3 linked regions of the Homo sapiens genome follow. The protein of the gene in region 1 purifies or fractionates together with the protein of each later gene. This does not show direct contact. Each region holds a gene or a part of one and is shown in the gene's direction. Other genes may lie near its edges. The genes, in order: CPNE4, BAHCC1 and JMY.

What was found.
Region 2: the proteins of CPNE4 (region 1) and BAHCC1 purify together in Homo sapiens (affinity purification with mass spectrometry; 2 studies listed by BioGRID and IntAct, with this or other methods). This does not show direct contact.
Region 3: the proteins of CPNE4 (region 1) and JMY purify together in Homo sapiens (affinity purification with mass spectrometry; one large-scale study listed by BioGRID and IntAct). This does not show direct contact.

Annotation. Positions count from the first base shown.
Region 1 is NC_000003.12:131,552,419-131,556,074, reverse strand, and holds part of CPNE4 (copine-4), read left to right. Parts: intron 1-523; coding exon 524-578; intron 579-3,583; coding exon 3,584-3,635; intron 3,636-3,656.
Region 2 is NC_000017.11:81,464,092-81,466,935, forward strand, and holds the end of BAHCC1 (BAH and coiled-coil domain-containing protein 1), read left to right. Parts: 3' UTR 1-2,240; downstream 2,241-2,844.
Region 3 is NC_000005.10:79,312,578-79,316,233, forward strand, and holds part of JMY (junction-mediating and -regulatory protein), read left to right. Parts: intron 1-1,679; coding exon 1,680-2,274; intron 2,275-3,422; coding exon 3,423-3,656. UniProt on the Homo sapiens protein: Acts both as a nuclear p53/TP53-cofactor and a cytoplasmic regulator of actin dynamics depending on conditions. In nucleus, acts as a cofactor that increases p53/TP53 response via its interaction with p300/EP300.

The DNA of each region.
Region 1 (3,656 bases):
CCATTTCGATTCAGTCTTATCTGTATTTGAACTCTAGCTCTAATTAGTGGCATGATCTTGGGCAAGTCACTTTACCTCTCAAGGCATTTCCCCACCTGCAGAAGGGGAATAACTATCTCTCCTTGTATTTTAAAAGATGATACATACAAAAGGTTCTAACACAGTCAACCATTACAGTTACCTAGTTCATGGTCACTTTTCAAAGGAAACAAAGTTGAAAGTTGAAGTGGAGGCCATTGATGAAAGGGTAGGGCCATTTTATTTCTTAGTATAGAATCTAGCAAAAAAATTAAGGGAGGAAGTTGTAGACTAATGACTGTAATGAACTTAAGGGGCTGTTTCTTGATTTTAATTATCCATGCTATTGCTACCCCCATCACCACAGACAATCAAGAAGCATGAGTCAGCACTGGCATAGCAACATGGCCTAGCAACCTAGTAATGTAGGTTAATGTTTTTCTTTCTCATTAAATGAATAAATGAAGCAACTTCTTGTTTTTTCTTTTCTTCATTTTGGTTTCAGTGACAAAATGTTCCCTGCCTTTGGGTTTGGCGCCAGGATACCTCCAGAGTACACGGTGAGTGAGTGGAGATGTGATCTTCTTCCACTTCACTGTGGTCAAAGGATAACTTGGCTCTTCTTTGCAGCAGTCTCACACTCCTGACTCTGACCTAACTGTGTCAGTAGGGCCTACAGAGTCAGAAATTGTCTTCAGAATCAGTGAGATTAACTCGCCAGGGCCCGTCTCTTGATGAAACCCTATCTCCTGGTATTTTGGATGGGTCTTCTCAGAGGTCCAGATGAAGAGTTTCATTGTTTAGTTTCTTATAAATGTGGTCAGAGTCTGAGAAAACACTCAAGAAGTTGATCTCCAGGGGCTCAGAACCTATTCACTCGTATATCCCCTAGGAAATAGAATTCTATTGGCAATGCCAACTGGGAAAGTCCGTGACAATGGAGTCTACAGACTTTCTTATCCCAAGTCTCCGAGTCCAAGTCTTGTATGGGAGACACAGAGAAGTTTTGAAGAAAGAACTATTATGACTTAGAGAATTGGGAAGCTGAAATGTTCTTCTGAAGACGTTGGAATCCTATTTGGTTTTGATAATGATTTCTCATGACAGAAAAAAGGCAAAGATTGTGTGTAGATAAATTTGCACTGTAATGAGGCTGAGACACTACTGTGATATTCTAGATGCTCCTGTAGAACATTCTCCACAGAGAACTCGTGCCCACTAGGTGGACAGGGCCTTGGAGAGACAGCAGGGTACCTCTCCCAGCCTCCACCTTACCAGTGCCTCTGAGGTCTGAGCTAAGTACAAACAACACTGCCCAATCCTCAATTTCTCTTTTACTGGCTGTGTCTGAGCCACAGGTGAGGAGGTAGATGCTGACATTTGCTCCCTCACTAGAGCCATCATATAAAGGGCTTTCCCCTTAGGTATCCTTTTTGAAAGAGGAAATCAATATCCCTGTTGCTCCTAGAGTGAATAGTGGATGGAATCGCTTGTCTCCCTGACCTGTTCTCCTTCTTTCTTGCCTTGTATTCCACACTGGCCTTTCTGCTGGGCATAGCTACATAATTCTAGAAGCATTTATTAGAAATACAGCTTGTGGAGAGAAAGAATATAGAACAAGAGTTATCAACTGGTGGCCTATAGACATTATTCAGGCCACAAATATGTTATATTTGACACACTTTTAAAAAACGAATTCAGCAATTGCATATATAAAATGTCAGATTTCTGGTTTCTCTTGAAAACCTGAAAGGCCTGGCAACACTAAGATTAAAAGATGACCGATACAAGAATAAGCTGGAGCTGAGGAGATATAGGCCCCTTCAAATCGGGAATGTAAACAGGTGAATGCCCACTTTCTTCATAGAGCTGCTGAATAGCTCAATAGCCATCAGCCCAACTACCCAGGGATTCTTGAGTTTTCACCACATCCCCACCAGGTGGTCTTCCAGCCTCAGGTTGGCCCAACAGGGCTGAGGACAGAGCTATGCACCATACCTTTTTCTCACTAATGACATCTTTTTGGTTCCCTTCCTGGAGTAACTAATCTTTCTTGCTGTTTTCTGAAGTCCTCTTGTTCACTTGATCCCCTAACTCCATCCTTCCTGTCAGCAAAATCCCCTGGTTATTCTTGTTTCAATAGGCATCTCTCACATTTCCCCATTTCGGGTCCCCTAATTTCTCCCATTCCTCAGACAAGCACTGATGATTTGAGCAGCTCAGGTGCCCCCAGGAGAGTTTACAAGGTTGCCACAATTTACTTCTTAGGACAAAATCTGAAAGTATGCATTGAAACTGAAACACAAGCACCTCTCTTTCTTAGTTAGCACTTTCTCAGAAACAGATCTTGAGACAAGGGTTTGGATGCAAATAGTTTATTTAAAAGGTGAGGGAAACCACAATAGAGGTTGGGAAGTGGAAGTCAGCACAGAGTATATTATCAAGTCAGTTACCGCTGTTGGCAACTGGTGCTTAACTCTGCTGAAGAACCCTAGGAGACAATATACAGCACACATGGACCCCAAGGGATAAGGGAGCTGGGATATGTATACATCACCTCCTGTTAATTACTGATTACTCCCAAGGGTCACTTTTAGCCTGTCACTTGGGCAAGCAAGGCAGGCCCTGGAGGCCAAGAAAAAACTTAAGGTAAACAAAGCAAATAAGATGACTGAAGTCAGCTGGCTTACCTGGAAGTGCTAAGAGCAAGGGACTAGGATAAGCACTGAGAGCATCACCGATCACCTCCCACTAAGAAAACAGGTGTCTTTTAACACAGTGACCTAATTTATGGATACCCAAAAGAGTCAGAGCTTGGAAATATCCTTTGAAATGAAATTCTCCATAAAATACCAAATGATTCAATAAAAATGTCCAGATGCCAGAACATCTATCTTGTTTTATCAGGTTTTCGGAAAGAAAAAAGTAAACAATATGTTATTTGACCTTGTGCATAGGTTCTGCCAGGTAGAGGAATTTGTGTTGAAATATTACAAAGTATATTACTTTACTATGTTTCCAAAAGTAGAGTGCAGTCTGTTTTACCTGTAGGTATGTGAAAATCCTCCTGCCCTGTAGTTCTGCATATCATGTTAATGATTCTTAAGTGTCAACTGCTTAGCTGAAGCTTTTATAACCATCGCTATCTTCAGCAGACAGCTTGGGTTATTGAGTTTTTTTGTTTTTATTTTTGTTTTAATCACTGGGTCCAAATAGAGCTCAGCCAAATCTAAGCCTCCAGTCTGTGGCCAGTTCTAACTAGCAGCTATTCAAAGTTATCTTTCTGAAATCTTTTCTTGGATTTTTTTATAAGCCTTATTCTCCCCTCCTGACAGCATTTATCTGATTCTAGAAAATATTCCTGTCACCTCAACTCCACAGGGAGCTTAGAATTCACCCTCCATCTCATATTGATTGTGTAAAGGCTTGAAATGGTTCCTGCTGCTTAACACATAATGAATATAATGGGCATTTGTTTGCAAACTCTAAACCCCAGTGCCTTCTTACTGGATTAAAGTTGTAATTCTTCTTTCTTCCTGTTTTTTAAATTTTAATCGGTGTCTAGGTCTCTCATGACTTTGCAATCAACTTTAATGAAGACAACCCAGAATGTGCAGGTAAAGCACAACGTGAAAGAA
Region 2 (2,844 bases), on another chromosome or scaffold:
TCCCGCACCGGCAGTTCACGGGAGATTTGAATCCAAGCCATATTCCCTAGTACCTCCGACTGTCTCCCACCAGGGAAAGCAGAAATCAGGTGTGTTGTCTATTTATTTCTCTATGTAAATATTGTATTTCTGCGGGGAAATTTTATGGTAAAAAGTGGAAAAGGGTTTTTCCCCATCCGCGTGACAAGGTGTGTGTGAGCGTGTATGTGTGTGCGCGTGTGTGGCGATTTTTGTCCTGGGGTTTCCTTTGGAAATGCACTGTTCTCAGCCCAGCTGGGTTCCAACGGGGGCACCTGGGACGACAGAGGCATCTCGGGGCAGGGGGCAGAGGCCACGGGAGGGTCAGGTGGGACCCTTGACGGCACCCTCTGATCTCTTGGGGGGACGACCGTGTAAGATGAAAGTCGGTCAAGTTTATTTGCTTTCAGTGCATCTCCTAGAAAAGAAGTGTTGGAGCAGGGGGTGGTGATGAGGGGCCCGTGGGGAAAGGATTCAAGAGGCAAAGCCCAGACCAGGGAGTGTGACAACAGCCGTGAGCATCTCACCTGTGTTCAAAACAAGACAAAGACGAACAAATATTTTAAAGTATTGATAAGAAAAAGCAATGTTTGGATTGTATCTGCTGAATCATATTCCAACCTATATCTGATTTCTGTTTCCGGGGCCAGTTGGTCTGAGGCCAAGGAGTCTGGCCTCCACCCAGAGCAGGGAGGGGCTGGCCCCTCGCCCCCCTCACCCTCGCCGCCCTGGCACACTCGGGAAGCAGGGCCCAGCTCTGAGCCCCTCCTCACCCCTGGGGTCCTAACTTTCCTGAAAGTAGTAGGTGCCGTGAGAAGGGGCAGTTTGGCCAGGTTCCTGAACTGGGCAGGGCTCGGGGCCTATGAGGGCAGGTTCACAGTCCCACCAGATTCTCTCCTCACCCCCAAGCAGAATGCATGCAAAAGACACCCCTTTTCCCACCCACCTTATTGGTGCCCCCAAACCCCTGGCCTGCTGCGTAGATGGTGGTGAGGCCAGGCCAGCAGTGCTGTGGCCAGGGGAGAAGAAAATAAAACGCAGGCCCTGCCCTTGGGGAAGGCCCCTTTCTGGGCCCCCTTTTCCACCAGCCAAATCTGCCTGGCCCTCGGACCCCTCTGCCTGCCCCAACCCCTTTGGAGGTTTCTCGGCCTTTTCTGTGCCACTTGGTGGGGCAGATGGCCTGATGGGCTAGTGCTTGGGGCATAGAATGAGGGTCCCCCTGACCACCTGAGCCCAAATCCTGGCCCCAGGTGCAAGCAGCACCCCTCGAGGGCTCTGCCCCAGTATCCCCAGGGAATTCACACCCCTCCCCTTCTCCCACAGCCAAGGACAGACAGGCTGCCTGGACCTGAGCCCAACAGCCTTCAGCCTCAGAAACGCATGGGGGGCCACACACTCCTTATATCCTCCCACACTAAGGTTCCCCTGGCCCCACGGGAGCTTCAGGAAAGCCCCCCAAGTTAGCCACTGCTCTAGGACGAGCTCTGTGTCCCCCACACCACAGGCCTCGAAGCAGGGTGCTGGTGGGTGCCCTGTACCCCAATCCCAGGTCCCCTTGGCCCCCTATTTTTCTCGGGCCCATTGGGGCCTGTTTCTCACCTGCTGGCTGGACCCCCTGAAGGGCCGTTCCCAGAGGCTCCCCAGGAGGCTCAAGGCTGGGGGCTTATGTTGTGGTCGGGGGTCCCCGCCTCCAGCCCCCCGCTCCCACCCCCGAGCCTACCCTTTGTCTCGCATGAGTGCAATATTTCATTCCCGGTGGTTGTCTGGGGAGGTGGTTGGACGAGGTCCTGCTTGAGGCTCGGGGATCAGAACGATGTCAAGTGAAGAAAAATGCACGGGGGCATGCTGAGCCACTGGAGTTCCAGAGAGGGCCGAGGAGGGTGCAGCCACGGAGGTTGGATCCTCTGCTCCGCCGCCTCGTCCTCGTCCCGCTTCTGCTGGGTTCCGCTTTGTCCCTGGTTTTTTCCTTTCTTTTTCTGTGTGCGTGCGAATGGTGCGGCCCCTCCCCTCTCACCGTGGTTAACGTGACGAAGGCACGATTCCTGTAAATGTGTAAACTAAGGGGATGGTTGGATTTTTTTTCAATGTAAACACTAAAAACAAAATGGACAAAAAAACACACAAAGGTTTTATGAACAGCAGACTCTATGTAAAGGCATTTTAGTATCAAATTTTTTATTGATAACTTGCTTAAGAATAAATATATGGACTATTGTACAGGTTTTCGGTGGTCCAGGGTCCTGTGTCCCACGGTACTCCTGGGGGTTCCCCAGGGCTCCGGGGGCTCAGCAGAAGCCTCTCGTTCCCAGAGCTGGGGCTTCTGGGCCAGGCCTCCCCACCGCCCCCTGTGTTGGCCCAAGTGAAGCCCCTCAGGCCAGGAAAGGGTCATGTGACCGGAATGGGCTCAGAGTGGTCTTAGGGGTGGGGTCCCTCCAGGAGGAGGGCCCCTTTCCTGGTTGCTCTCACAGTCCCTGTCCAGCCTGAACCAGTCCAGGGCCAGAGTAGGTTCCACTGGAGAGGACGAAGGGCAAGAGCAGTCTCCGAGCCGCCACGCTGGGCAGGGTCTCAGACGTGAATGACCATCCTGGGAGGGGCGGCCCACGGCCCGGGTGTGGGAACACAGATGAGTGCACCCCCAGCTGGAGAGAGCCCTGTTCATGAGGCTGCAGACCCAGAGGAAGCCGGATGCTTGCAGGGGGTAGGGGACCCTCCTTGTTCCCCCTCTGCCGCCGGGATCTTGGGAAGCTGCATGAAGTCGGTGCACATCTGTCCCAGTGGGCCCTGAGTGCCTGGTCACAGCTGCGTCCAAGGCCAGGAAACATGGTC
Region 3 (3,656 bases), on another chromosome or scaffold:
CTTTGTGGGAAAAACTTGGTTTTCCCTTATTTATAAACTATTATAACCATGGAAGTCCTTTTTAAAATTGTTTTAATGGCATGGCTCCATTTCCTCTGGTGGTTTTCCGAATTTAGTATTCTTGTGACCTTTGACCCACAGCTTCAGTAGTATAAGAGGAATGATAAGGGCCTCTGGGAAACCTAGATTCCTCTTGAGTTTAAAAAATTAGTTAAATCACAACTGACTATCCAGCTCAAGCATCAGCATGTTATTTATTCCACATACATCAGCCTGTGGTGGTAATACATCAAATGACCATTGGCAGAATTAGAGGTGGAGGGGAGCAGCATATTTGAGAAATGCTTCAGCAGTTCTCTTGCCAGGGTAAGCCATGACCACACACTGATACCACAGTATCCACACATCTCCTCAGAACTGTGCTGAAGCCTCACAGTTCTCATTTTTAAAGTACTCTGGAGCCTTACTTCAGTTATGCATGCTGAAGGATCACTTTGTAGGTGAAGTAGGCTTTTGAACAAGTGTTACAGTGGAAAAAAAGGAGGTGAGGCAGGGGAAAAGCCTTGTTATTAAGTAAATGTGGCTCACGCCTGTAATCCCAGCACTTTATGAGGCTGAGGCAGGTGGATTGCTTGAGCCGGGGAGTTCAAGACCAGCCTGGGTAACATGGCGAAACCCTGTCTCTATACAAATTAGCCTGGCATGGTGGAACATGCCTGTGGTTCCGGCCATTTGGGTGGCTGAAGTGGGAGGATTACCTGAGCCAGGGAGGTCATGGCTGCAGTGAGCTGTGATCATACCACTGCACTCCAGTCTGGGCAACAGAGTGAGACCCTGTCTCAAAAACAAACAAACAAACAAAAGGTCTTACCATGGTAAAATATATATAAGAGTTCTACCAGTAAGTACTGAAAAAAATGTATTTCTCTCTTCATTCTGTCATAAAATGGATATATAGTTGATGGAGCTTTTTAAAAATGCCAAGTAACCTGTTAAAGAATATTTTAATTTTCTCGTGTGTGCATTTGAAAACATAGGAAACTTTTTGCATACCAGTAGCATTTATACATTTGACATCACTTATGTTTTGCATTTTACATGCTATTTGTTTTATACATTTAGTAGTTTTATTCACTAAAAATCTTTTTTTAATCATAATTTTGAATATTTGAATTATCAATCGTGGATTTGATAGGCAAATAATAAATTCATAATTGTTTGTAAGCTATTATTAGGTACTTTCGGATTTTCTGTATAACTTTAAGGGTGAAATAACCAATAAGCCAACATAACATTTTTGAGATGGAATCTCACTCTGTCACTCAGGCTGGAGTGCGGTGGCACAATCTCGGCTCACTGCAACTTCCGCCTCCCGGGTTCAAGCAATTCTCCTGCCTCAGCCTCCTGAGTAGCTGGGACTACAGGTGCCTGCCACCACACCCAGCTAATTTTTGTATTTTTAGTAGTGACGGGGTTTCACCATGTCGGCCAGGCTGGTCTCAAACTCCTGATCTCAGGTGATCCACCCGCCTCGGCCTCCCAAAGTGCTGGGATTACAGGCGTGAGCCACCACACCCGGCCACATAACATCTTTTATTTGAAGGAGAAAATAAATAGGCATGTGCTCATAAATTGTTTCAATAACATTTAACCAGTTCCAATAACTTCTGGTATTTTAGAGGTATCCTGGGCAAGTCATACTTAAATCAACCAGATTACGACTAGCTCATGCAAGAAGAAAAGGTGCAGCAAGTCCTGTTCTCCAAGAGGATCATTGTGACTCTTTACCAAGTGTGTTACAGGTAGAAGAGAAAACTGAAGAGGTGGGAGAAGGAAGAGTCAAGCGTGGGCCATCACAGACAACAGAACCCCAGAGCCTTGTGCAACTTGAAGATACTTCATTAACACAACTTGAAGCCACCTCATTACCTCTCAGTGGTGTTACCTCTGAACTGCCTCCCACTATATCTCTTCCACTTTTGAATAACAACCTCGAACCATGTTCTGTTACCATAAATCCACTCCCATCCCCTCTTCCTCCAACACCACCACCTCCCCCACCTCCTCCCCCTCCCCCACCACCACCACCTCTGCCTGTTGCTAAGGACAGTGGCCCAGAGACACTGGAGAAAGATCTGCCTAGAAAGGAGGGGAATGAGAAGAGGATCCCAAAGTCAGCCAGTGCCCCCTCAGCACACCTCTTTGACAGCAGCCAGCTGGTCAGTGCACGGAAGAAGCTCAGAAAGACTGCTGAAGGTTTGCAGAGGAGGAGAGGTACGTCAACATATTTTCATGGTCCATCTGTTGTATGACATCAGGCATAGTAAAAAACTATATTTTTTGACGTTGCAAAGCTTAAAACACTTTATTTTTGACATTATTTGATAGTAAACAGGTTTTCAAAGTCACACTAGAGGAGAATTCTTAGTGCATAAAGTACACAGAAATGTATGCCTTCTTGGGCTGTTAGGCATGTTTTAAAAACAGATCTTCTAAAGTGATACATTCATGTTTGGTAATGTATAATGGGTGGCTCCTTTTGTGTTAGGGAAAAAGTTTTGATTTTAAACCTGAGATTTTTAAAAAAATACTCATATCAGAAAGGGTAAGATATCTGGTAAGGACTGTCACCACAGGGAAGACATTGGCAGGATCATGTAACATTTGTTCATACATTTGTTGAGGACTTTTGTGTATTTGTATAAAGAAGCAAAGAAGAACAGGGAGTAATCTGTTCAACTTACAATGTGACAGATGTGCCTCAATAAGGTTACTATTTTTTTTTCTAATTTTTTTTGTTAAGAGAGATTCAAGCACAAATAAAATTATTTCTAAAAAGAGCAGAGAATAACCCTTGCCTTTTGCCTTTAAGGAATTTGCATTTTGCATGGGGAGAACATTATATAAATGTTACATATTACTTGTATATTACATTTTAACCTGAAGGACCATTCTATAAAACATTTCTTGATGTAATCTGAGTAGGATTTCACATGTAAAACAACTAAATGAAAAAAGCACAGTCTCCATAATAAACAAAAATTAATTTTTAAAAACAAAATGTGTAACCCCATCACTCTGAATTTGGGTGGAGCAACTGCAATATGGAAATCCTTTGGGAATCACACCCATAATACTACTAAGACCACCTCCCAGTTCCCAATCTGGTCACTTCTCTCATGTAGGAAATGATAGGAATACCAACAGTACCCACCATGGATTGGGTCTTGGGATTTTCTAAAAAGAAGGATAATTAGGATCCCTTGTGTTCTGATCACCTTCTGCACACATTTCATGATCCATTTTGAAGATGGTGTTTCAGCGTCCTGTGCTTTCACAGTTGCGAACGGTAGAGGTTATACAGTTTCATTCTAATTAAGTGCAGTCCTAACTGTAATACTGTTCTGTTTCATTTTCCAAAGTGAGCTCACCCATGGATGAGGTGCTAGCCTCCTTGAAGCGTGGTAGTTTTCATCTGAAAAAGGTTGAACAGCGAACTCTGCCTCCTTTTCCTGATGAAGATGATAGTAATAATATCTTGGCACAAATAAGGAAAGGGGTAAAATTGAAGAAGGTACAGAAGGATGTTTTGAGAGAATCCTTCACACTTCTACCCGATACAGACCCTCTAACACGGAGCATCCATGAAGCTCTTA